Linked DNA regions of Homo sapiens: region 2 is linked to region 1. The links come from fine-mapping of genetic effects on gene expression. A gene starts in region 1. The other region holds a variant in brackets. All regions are shown on one strand. Distances are from middle to middle.

Region 1 (4,397 bases):
CGACCTCAGGTGATCCGCCTGCCTCGGCCTCCCAAAGTGTTGGGATTATAGGGGTGAGCCACCGCGCCCAGCCTTTTTTTTTTTTTTTTTTTTTTTTGGAGACAGGGTCTCACTCCGTTGCCCAGGCTGGAGTGCAGTGGCTGGATCTCGGCTCACTGCAACCTCCACATCCCAGGCCCAAGCGATTTTCCCGCCTCAGCCTCCAGAGTAGCTGGGACTTCAGGCGTGGGCCACCATCATGCCCAGCTAAATTTTGTATTTTTAAAGTAGATTTCGCCATGTTGCCCAGGCTGGTCTCAAAACTTCTGAACTAGGTGATCTGCCCGCCTCGGCCTCTCAAAGTGCTGGGATTATAGGCGTGAGCCACCACTCCCAGTTTCCTCTAATTTTAGGAAAGCCTTCCCTGAGGCACTCTGAAGAAATTAGGTCTGTTTGAACCACATTCATTCCCGTTACCCAGCACATTTCAGTTGCACTGTCACCATCAGTTTGGGTGTCTGTCTTCTCAGATTGTAGGACCTTGAGGATAAATACTATCTTTTGTTTATTTTTGGGTCCTCTGTATCCACCTCAGCCTCCTGCTTTTTTTTTTTTAAACTATCCCACATTAATTCTTTTTTTTTTTTTTTGATAACGGAGTCTCGCTCAGTCGCCCAGGCTGGAGTGCAGTGGCGCGATCTCGGCTCACTGCAACCTCCGCTTCCCATGTTCAAGTGATTCTTCTGCCTCAACCTCCCAAGAAACTGGGATTACAGGCGTGTGCCACCATGCCCCGACTAATTTTTGTATTTTTAGTAGAGACGGGGTTTCCCCATGTTGGCCAGGCTGGTCTCGAACTCCTGACCTCAAGTGATCCATCCGCCTCGGCCTGCCAAAGTATTGGGATTACAGGCATGAGCCACCGCGCCTGGCCCACATTCTTTTGAAAGACCAAAATAATGAACAGCTAGTTTCATGTAGGTTGTAAAACTTGACCTTGGATTTACTGACACTAACATGTGCACTACACCTTACAGTCCGTAAAATGTTCCTGCATTATTTCACTCCATTGTCACATCTTTGTCAGGTTAGTTATTATAAATGCATTTGTAGTTGAGCCATTTGCTCAAGAACCAGAGCTGTAGTCTGTAGCTTTGTTGCTTTATCCTTGGTCTCAGAAGTCTTCTACTGTACTATAGCTATCAGAGCAGGGATTGATGCCTTAAAGGATGGCAGCTTTTGCAAAACTGGAATAAGGAAGTATGGAAAGGCACCCCAAAACAAGAGAGGTGGCGCACAGCTTGAACAAAGGCAGTGCTCAGGAAACCTACAAACAGCATCGTGTACAGCAAAGGATGATGGGAAAGTCAGCCGAGCCTCTGAGTTTTTTCACGAGTCGTAAACCCCTTACAGAGCTCCGGGTTTTGCCTCTAGCTCTGGAGCACCCCGCCTCTGCCCTTTAACCTGTACTTCCTCCCTCCCTCCCTTCGCGCCGCGCCGCGCTAGTCTCTTAGCCACTCCGAGGCCACCAACCAGCCTCCCAAAGCTCCCATTGGGTTGCCCACCCTTTCAGTCTCAGCTCCTCCCGCCAGAGGCCCCGCCTCCCACAAGCGAAGCTCTTATTTCCGTTCTTCCGGCGTAGGCCGCCAAATCAGTCCGTACAGTGGCGAGGCAGTCGAGCAACAGGAAGCGGTCGCTCTTTCCCCAAATCCCACTGCCTTGTGGGATCTCGGCAAGTCATCCACCCACCCCCCGCGCCTACGCAAGTTTTCCGGATCCGTCCACCCCCGCCTCCCTCCTAGTGTACGGAAGCTGAGAGGGCCCGCGGGTAGGCATGGCGGCGCACCTTAAGAAGCGGGTTTATGAGGAATTCACGAAAGTGGTTCAGGTAAGCTCTGGCGGGAAAGATCCAGAACCGATCCGGACCAGGGTAGATTATCCAAATCCCAGGCACTTTGCCGGAACAGAAGAGGCTCCATACGCCCGTGTTAAGTGCTGACTTGTTGATAATCTCTGATATTGCAAGTTAGTGGGCGTGTTAGTTTGCAGCCGCTGTTGTCATTAATATGTGAAGTCTGACAGGATTTTAAAAAAATTATTAGGAGAAACAGTGTTTTTTAATTTACGAAACTGTCTTATCCGTTATTTCATTTTATTCTCTCACACAACTTTGCTCCATCGCGTTACATTAGCATCCTCGTTTTCCAGATGTGGACATTGAGCCTTCCGGAGGGGTACGAGGATACAGCCAGTTAGCAGCAGAGCCCCTTCTAGCCTCCCCGCACCCCCGTTCCAAAAAAAAACCTCCCAGGGACCAGTTGGAATATACACAAGGTTCTAAGGGGCTGAAAGAAGGGTCTATAGAATTCCTTCAGGCGCAGTCTAAGCAGGCGGGGGTCACAGACTTCATAGGGGAAGAGCTCTCTATTGGTAGAACAGCTCACCTAGGAAGGAGGGCAGTACCTTCCTCACCATGAAGTTGTGACAGGTGGGCAGAGTCCCTGTCGGGAGTCAGTGATGCTCCATGTGTCTCCACGTAGATGTTGCTAGGGTTGATCCTAAATCATCCTGATGTCCTATTTCTCAGATATTAATGTGTATACAAATTACCTGGGGACGTTGTTCAAATGTCGATTCTATTTGATAAGTCAAGCAGAGGAGGTGAGGCAAGATTCTGCATTCCTGACATGCCCCCAAATTTACACCAGTGCATTGGTTGCATTCTTAGATCCTTAGACTTGTAGAGTGGCAAGGCTTAGAGCATCCAGCAGGATACTGATCCTTAAACATTACATGGATTCATTCATCCAGCATTAAAATATGTTAATACAAATACAAAATATGTCAATACATAATATAAAATTTACAATTTTAACAATTTTAAGTATAAAGTTCAGTGGCATTAAGAACATTAGCACTGTTGCACAATGTGATTTCCTCTCTTCCCAACATTCTGTTGTTCCCATTTCCCAAGACTGCTCAGCCCTCTTCCACCCATCCTCACATGACCAGATATGCCATGTGTTCTTGTGTTTGCATATCTCAAAACTCTTGCACTGGTTGTCTCTTCTCACAGAATACATGCCATTCTTCCCTTTCTTTTTGTTCTCCACCCAGTGGACTTAACATTTGTGCTTCAAGACCCAAATGAAACCTCAGCGAGAGCTTAGTCTCTTCTTCACCTGTTTCTGTAGCATTCTGTGGTACTAATCTATTTGTACTTTTTGTTCAGTGCTGCTGTCATTACCGGTGTACCTATCTTCCCACCAGTCGGAGGTCCTTGATGGCAGAGCTAATGCCTGGCTCATCTCCGTGTCCTGGAGATGGACAATAGGGCCTGGCTCACTAAAGTGTTATTGGTGGTTGAATGACAGTTGATATTGCTTGTCCTCTCCCTTATATAATACTTAGGGAAAAAATTCCTAGCTTTTGACCTAACTACAGCTTCGATAAGACTGAAAACTGAGTTTGAGAGGACTAGGATAGAAATGGCTAAGAATTTTAAGGGAAGAGCTAATTTCTTCACTTAATTTTTCATCAGTTGTTAACATAAAGTGATTAAATGAGATCTTAGTGCTTCTGTTCTTTTTTCTCCGCTGAAAAGATGAGGAGGGAGAACTGATATGTGCCTAGCACTTACATATACGTATAATAAAGTTATGTTTAATAACAGATTTATCGACTAGCTCTGTGATAATAAAGTATTGGTATGCCCTCCTATAGAAGAAGGCCTTCCCCAGCTAGTAAGTTGTAATTGAATACAAATTCCTCTGACTCCAAAGTCCTTATTCTTTTTATCATGTCATACTGTGTTCTTGTCTAGAATAATTCTACTCTCTTTTCTATAGAAATGTGAATTTGTAAGGAGGTGATTGCTCAGTACATAAAAACGCACCATTAGGTGGTAAGGAAATTTATTTTATTTTATTATTATTTTTTAACAGAGACAGGATTTCACCATGTTGCCCAGGCTGGTCTCGAACTCCTGGGCTCAAGGGATCCTCCTGCCTCAGCCTCCCAAAGTGCTAGGATTTCAGGTGTAAGCCACTACGCCCATCGGATATTTGTTTCCTTTTCTTCTGTTTTGAGATGGAGTTTCGCTCTTTTCGCCCAAACTGGTGTGCAGTTGCGCAATCCTAGCTCACTGCAACTTCTGCCTCCTGGGTTCACGCAATCCTCAGCCTCCTGCATAGCTGGGACTGCAGGCATACACCACCACCCCCAGCTAATTTTTGTGTTTTTAGTAGAGATGGGGTTTTGCCATGTTGGCCAGGCTGGTCTTGAACTCCTGGCCTCAAGTGATCCGCCTGCCTAAGCCTCTCAAAGTGCTGGGATTACAGGCATGAGCCACCATGCCATGTCTGATATTTGTTTTCTAATAAAGAATGGACTTTGGGAGACTGAAGCAGAGGGATCAC
Region 2 (4,397 bases), 37 kb after region 1:
ACATGGGGTAGGGTGCATAGTCAGAATACAGCCAGAGCAGCTGACAGAGGTCAAGATTCATTTTTAAGCAAAGATTCCAGAAGTTAAAACCACACACAAGTGTTTTACTGGGCATCCTTATCCAACCACCCTATCTTCACTTTGAAAATAGTTTAAACATTGCCTGAGAGGACACAGAACTAATAGACTTTTGGAATTCTTCTTTGCAGGCCTGTAAATTACTCTCTGATGACTATGAACAAGTGCGCAGTGCTGCAGTCCAGCTTATCTGGGTCGTCAGTCAGCTCTATCCTGAAAGGTCAGTGTGGGTGTAAGCTGGCTTTTGTTGATTGTGAAGCCGTTTTCCTCTCCTCTCACCATGCAAAAAGCCCACTTCTAGAAAAGAAATGTTGGTTACATTTTTGGAAGGCAATGGGGAATAAGGGAAAAGCACAGGCCCTGAAAATCAGATTGCCTGGTCCTCATTTTTCATCTCTGATAGGAACTTTCTGTACACTTTGGAAAGATACTTCACTTCTTTTATCCTAACCTTCTCATCCATAAGTGAAGAAATTGGAATATCTTTCTTAAATGGTTTTCAGTACTTTACAAAAAAATCTTTAAAATTGTTTGGGACCCATTTTAGTTTGGCTTGTGCCAAATGCCAGATAAAGATACCAGATGAGTTTGAGAATAATGATCTCTTATGTAGTTTTCCTGGTTAAAAATATTTTCACAGCAATTAAATTAACCACAGTGATTCTTTGAGGAGGTAGGCAATATTATTTATTATATTTTGTAAGATAGAATATTATATTTATAAATGTTTATTTATCTTTTATTTATAAATATTTATAGAATATTTTATTTTTCCTTGTATAGGAAAAAGGGGTGTTTTTTCCTGTTCATTAAACTGCCAGAATTTGAAAACCAGAATGAATTAATAAACCTGTAGGAGTAGGCTCCATTTGTAGTGTTTTAGGACTTAGACACATACAAAGAAAAGGGCTAACTGGAAATTGTGTCTTCTTTTAGGACTGGATTGATAAGTAAGTTTTATATTGATTTATTCTGAGATTTACTGTATTTATAGAAGTTCAGTCTGGACACGGTGGTGCCTGTAATCCCAGCACTTTCGGAGGCCGAGGTGGGCGGATCACCTCAGGTCAGGAGTTCAAGACCAGCTTGGTCAACATGGTGAAACCTCGTCTCTACTAAAAATACAAAAATTAGCCGGACATGGTGGCACACGCCTGTAATCCCAGCTACTAGGGAGGCTGAGGCAGGAGAATCGCTTGAACCTGGGAAGTGGAGATTGTGGTGAGCTGAGATCACACCACTGCACTCCAGCCTGGGTCACAGAGCAAGACACTTTCTCTCAAAAAAAAAAAAAAAAAAAAAGAAGTTCAGTTACAGAAGATAATAAACTTAAGGATATGAAATATTCGGTGGAAGCTAGTTTTTGATAATTTCATAAATCTTTGAACCTTTGGTGGGTTACGTACTTTTTTTTTTAAGGCAGGGTCTTGCTCTGTGGCCCAGGCTGCAGTGCAGTGATGTGATCTCGGCTTACTACAACCTCCAACTCCTGGGTTGAAGCAATTCTCATGCCTGAGCCTCCCAAGTAGCTGGAATTACAGTCGCGCACCACCACACCCAGCTCATTTTTTGTACTTTTAGTAGAGATGAGGTTTTGCCATGTTGGGTAGGCTGGTCTTGAACCCCTGGCTTCAGGTAATCTGCCCGCCTCAGTATCTCAGTGTGCTGGGATTACACGCCTGGCTGAACCTTTGGTGGGTTACACACTTTTATTCAATACATTGAAAATTTGCACCTGGTTGCAGTGACTCAGCCCTGTAATCCTAGCACTTTGGGAGGCTGAGGCGGGTGGATTGCTTGATCTCAGGAGTTTGAGATCAGCCTGGGCAACATGGTGAACCATCTCTACTAAAAATATAAAAAATTAGCTGGGTGTGGTGGCATGCTTTTGTAGTCCCGGCTACTCAGGAGGGTGAACTGGGAGGATCACCTGAGCCCAGGAAGTTGACACTGTGGTGAGCAGTGCTCACGCCACTGCACTCCAGCCTGGGCGACAGAAGTGAGACCCTGTCTCAAAAAAAAGCATAATTTGCAATGCAACTGAAAGAGTTGGTTTGTACTCCCAGAGTGATTTGTTTATTCCAAACTGTATTTAATCATTCTAGGATTTGAACTATTCAATTATCATTTTTGTGTGTGTCAGTCTTCATTGACTGTTCTCAGTTTATTGAGCCTGCAGCCTTACTTACTTATGTATTTATTTGTTTATTATTATTATTATTATTATTATTATTATTATTATTATTATTATTATTTTTTGAGATGGAGTCTCGCTCTGTTGCCCAGGCTGGAGTGTAGTGGCACTATCTTGGATCACTGCAACCTCCACATTCCAGGTTCAAGCGATTCTCCTGCCTCAGCCTCCTGAGTAGCTGGAATTGCAGACATGTGTCACCATGCCTGGCTAATTTTTATATTTTTAGTAGAGAGGAGGTTTCGCCATGTTGGCCAGGCTGGTCTCGAACTCTTGACCTCAAGTTATCCACCTGCCTCAGCCTCCCAAAGTGCTGGCATTACAGGCGTGAGCCATTGCGCCCAGACTGTATTTATTTTTCAAGACAGGGTCTTGCT[G/C]TGTCATCCAGGCTGGAGTGCCGTGGTGTGATCTCAGCTCACTGCAACCTTCACCTCCAGAGCTAAAGTAATCTTCCCACTTCAGCCTCCCAAGTAGCTGGGACTATCAGCGCATGCCACCACGCCTAGCTAATTTTTGTATTTTTTTTGTAGAGATGAGGTTTTGCCATATTGCTCAGGTTGGTCTTGAACTCTTGGGCTCAAGCAATCTACCTGCCTGGGCCTCCCAAAGTGTTGGGATTATAGATGTGAGCCACTGTGCCTGGCCTGAGCCTGCAGACTTAGGTTCATGTTTTGTTCTAAGTGATTTCATTTCTTTTCTTTTAATTTAGCATTGTCCCAATTCCTTCTTCTAATGAAGAAATACGCTTAGTTGATGATGCGTTTGGCAAAATTTGTCACATGGTCAGTGATGGCTCTTGGGTGGTTCGTGTTCAGGCAGCAAAACTGTTGGTAAGTTATACTTTTTATGTATGTATGTATGCATGTATATATTTATTTTCTTTTCTGTAGAAATGAGGACTGTGTGGCCCAGGTTGGTCTCAAACTCTTGGCCTCAAGCAGTCCTCCTGCCTCAGCCTCCCAAAAGACTGGGATTATAGGCTGGGTGCGGTGACTCACACCTGTAATTCCAGCACTTTGGGAGGCCAAGGCAGGCGGATCACGAGGTCAGGAGATTGAGACCATCCTGGCCAACATGGTGAAATCCCGTCTCTACTAAAAATACAAAAATTAGCTGGGCATGGTGGCGCACGCCTGTAATCCCAGCTACTCGGGAGGCTGAGGCAGGAGAATCGCTTGAACCTGGGAGGCAGAAGTTGCAGTGAGCCAAGATCACGCTGCTGCACTCCAGCCTGGCGACAAGGGGGAGACTCTCATCTCAAAAAAAAAAAAAAAAGGCTGGGATTATAGATGTGAGCCACTACACCCAGCCAATAATCCTTTTTTTAAATGAGCACATTTCTCATTAAGTTTTTACAGACATTTTGAGAAACTACAGATGGGGCAGTGTGACCTGAATTTAAAACCCCAGAATTTATTTTCCTTTTTCTTTTCTTGAGACAGGGTCTTCCTCTGTTGCTCAGGCAGGAGTGCAATAGTGCAGTCACGGCTCACTGCAGCCTTGACCTGCCGGGCTCAAGCAATCCTTCCACCTCAGCCTCCTGAGTAGCTGGGACTACAGGCATGTGCCACCCTGCCTAGCTAATTTGTATTTTTTGTAGACATGGGGTCTTGCTTTGTGCCCAGGCTGGTCTTGAATTCCTAGGCTCAAGTGATCCTTCTGCCTTGGCCTCCCAAATTGTTGGGATTACAGGTTTAAGCCACTACTCCCAGCCCCAGAATTTCTTAATATAGAAAGAAATAGTTCACTCTCCTGTAGAGAAATAGCCTTTTAGAACTAGAAAGAATCTTAAAACATAATTCTATTAACCCTACTAGGAATTAAGATAGCCGGAGCCTAGAGAAAAAGGAAAACAATAAAAAAAAAGTTTTTCCCATTTATTAAGCACTTGTTATGTCCTAGTTCAGGAGGCTCAAACCCCCAGGCTGTGGACCAGTCCTGGTCCATGGCTTGTTAGGAACCAGGCCACACAACAGGAGGTGAGTGGTAGATGAGCAAGTATTACTGCCTGAGCTCTGCCTGCTGTCAGATCAGCAGCTGCATTAGATTATCATAGGAGTGTGAACCCTATTGTGAACTGAGCATGTGCGGGATCTAGGTTTCATCCTCCTTGTGAGAGTCTAAT

The links. PIP is the estimated chance that this variant, and not a neighbour inherited with it, causes the effect. A credible set is the group of variants that fine-mapping cannot tell apart.
Region 2: its variant is the best candidate, but not a certain one, in a credible set for the expression of INTS4 in monocytes (TOPMed, PIP 0.59).

What each region holds. Positions count from the first base shown.
Region 1 is chr11:77,992,060-77,996,456 of GRCh38, reverse strand. INTS4 (integrator complex subunit 4) reads left to right here and starts at 1,789. Exons shown (of 23, transcript NM_033547.4): 1 at 1,789-1,867. The coding sequence starts at 1,814. RefSeq lists a silencer at 1,405-1,474 and an enhancer at 1,675-1,874.
Region 2 is chr11:77,954,647-77,959,043 of GRCh38, reverse strand. INTS4 (integrator complex subunit 4) reads left to right here. Exons shown (of 23, transcript NM_033547.4): 7 at 210-298; 8 at 2,982-3,102. Among named protein-coding and RNA genes, the nearest start is that of INTS4, 38 kb to the left of the region's middle. The variant G/C (reference allele first, on the strand shown) is at 2,650.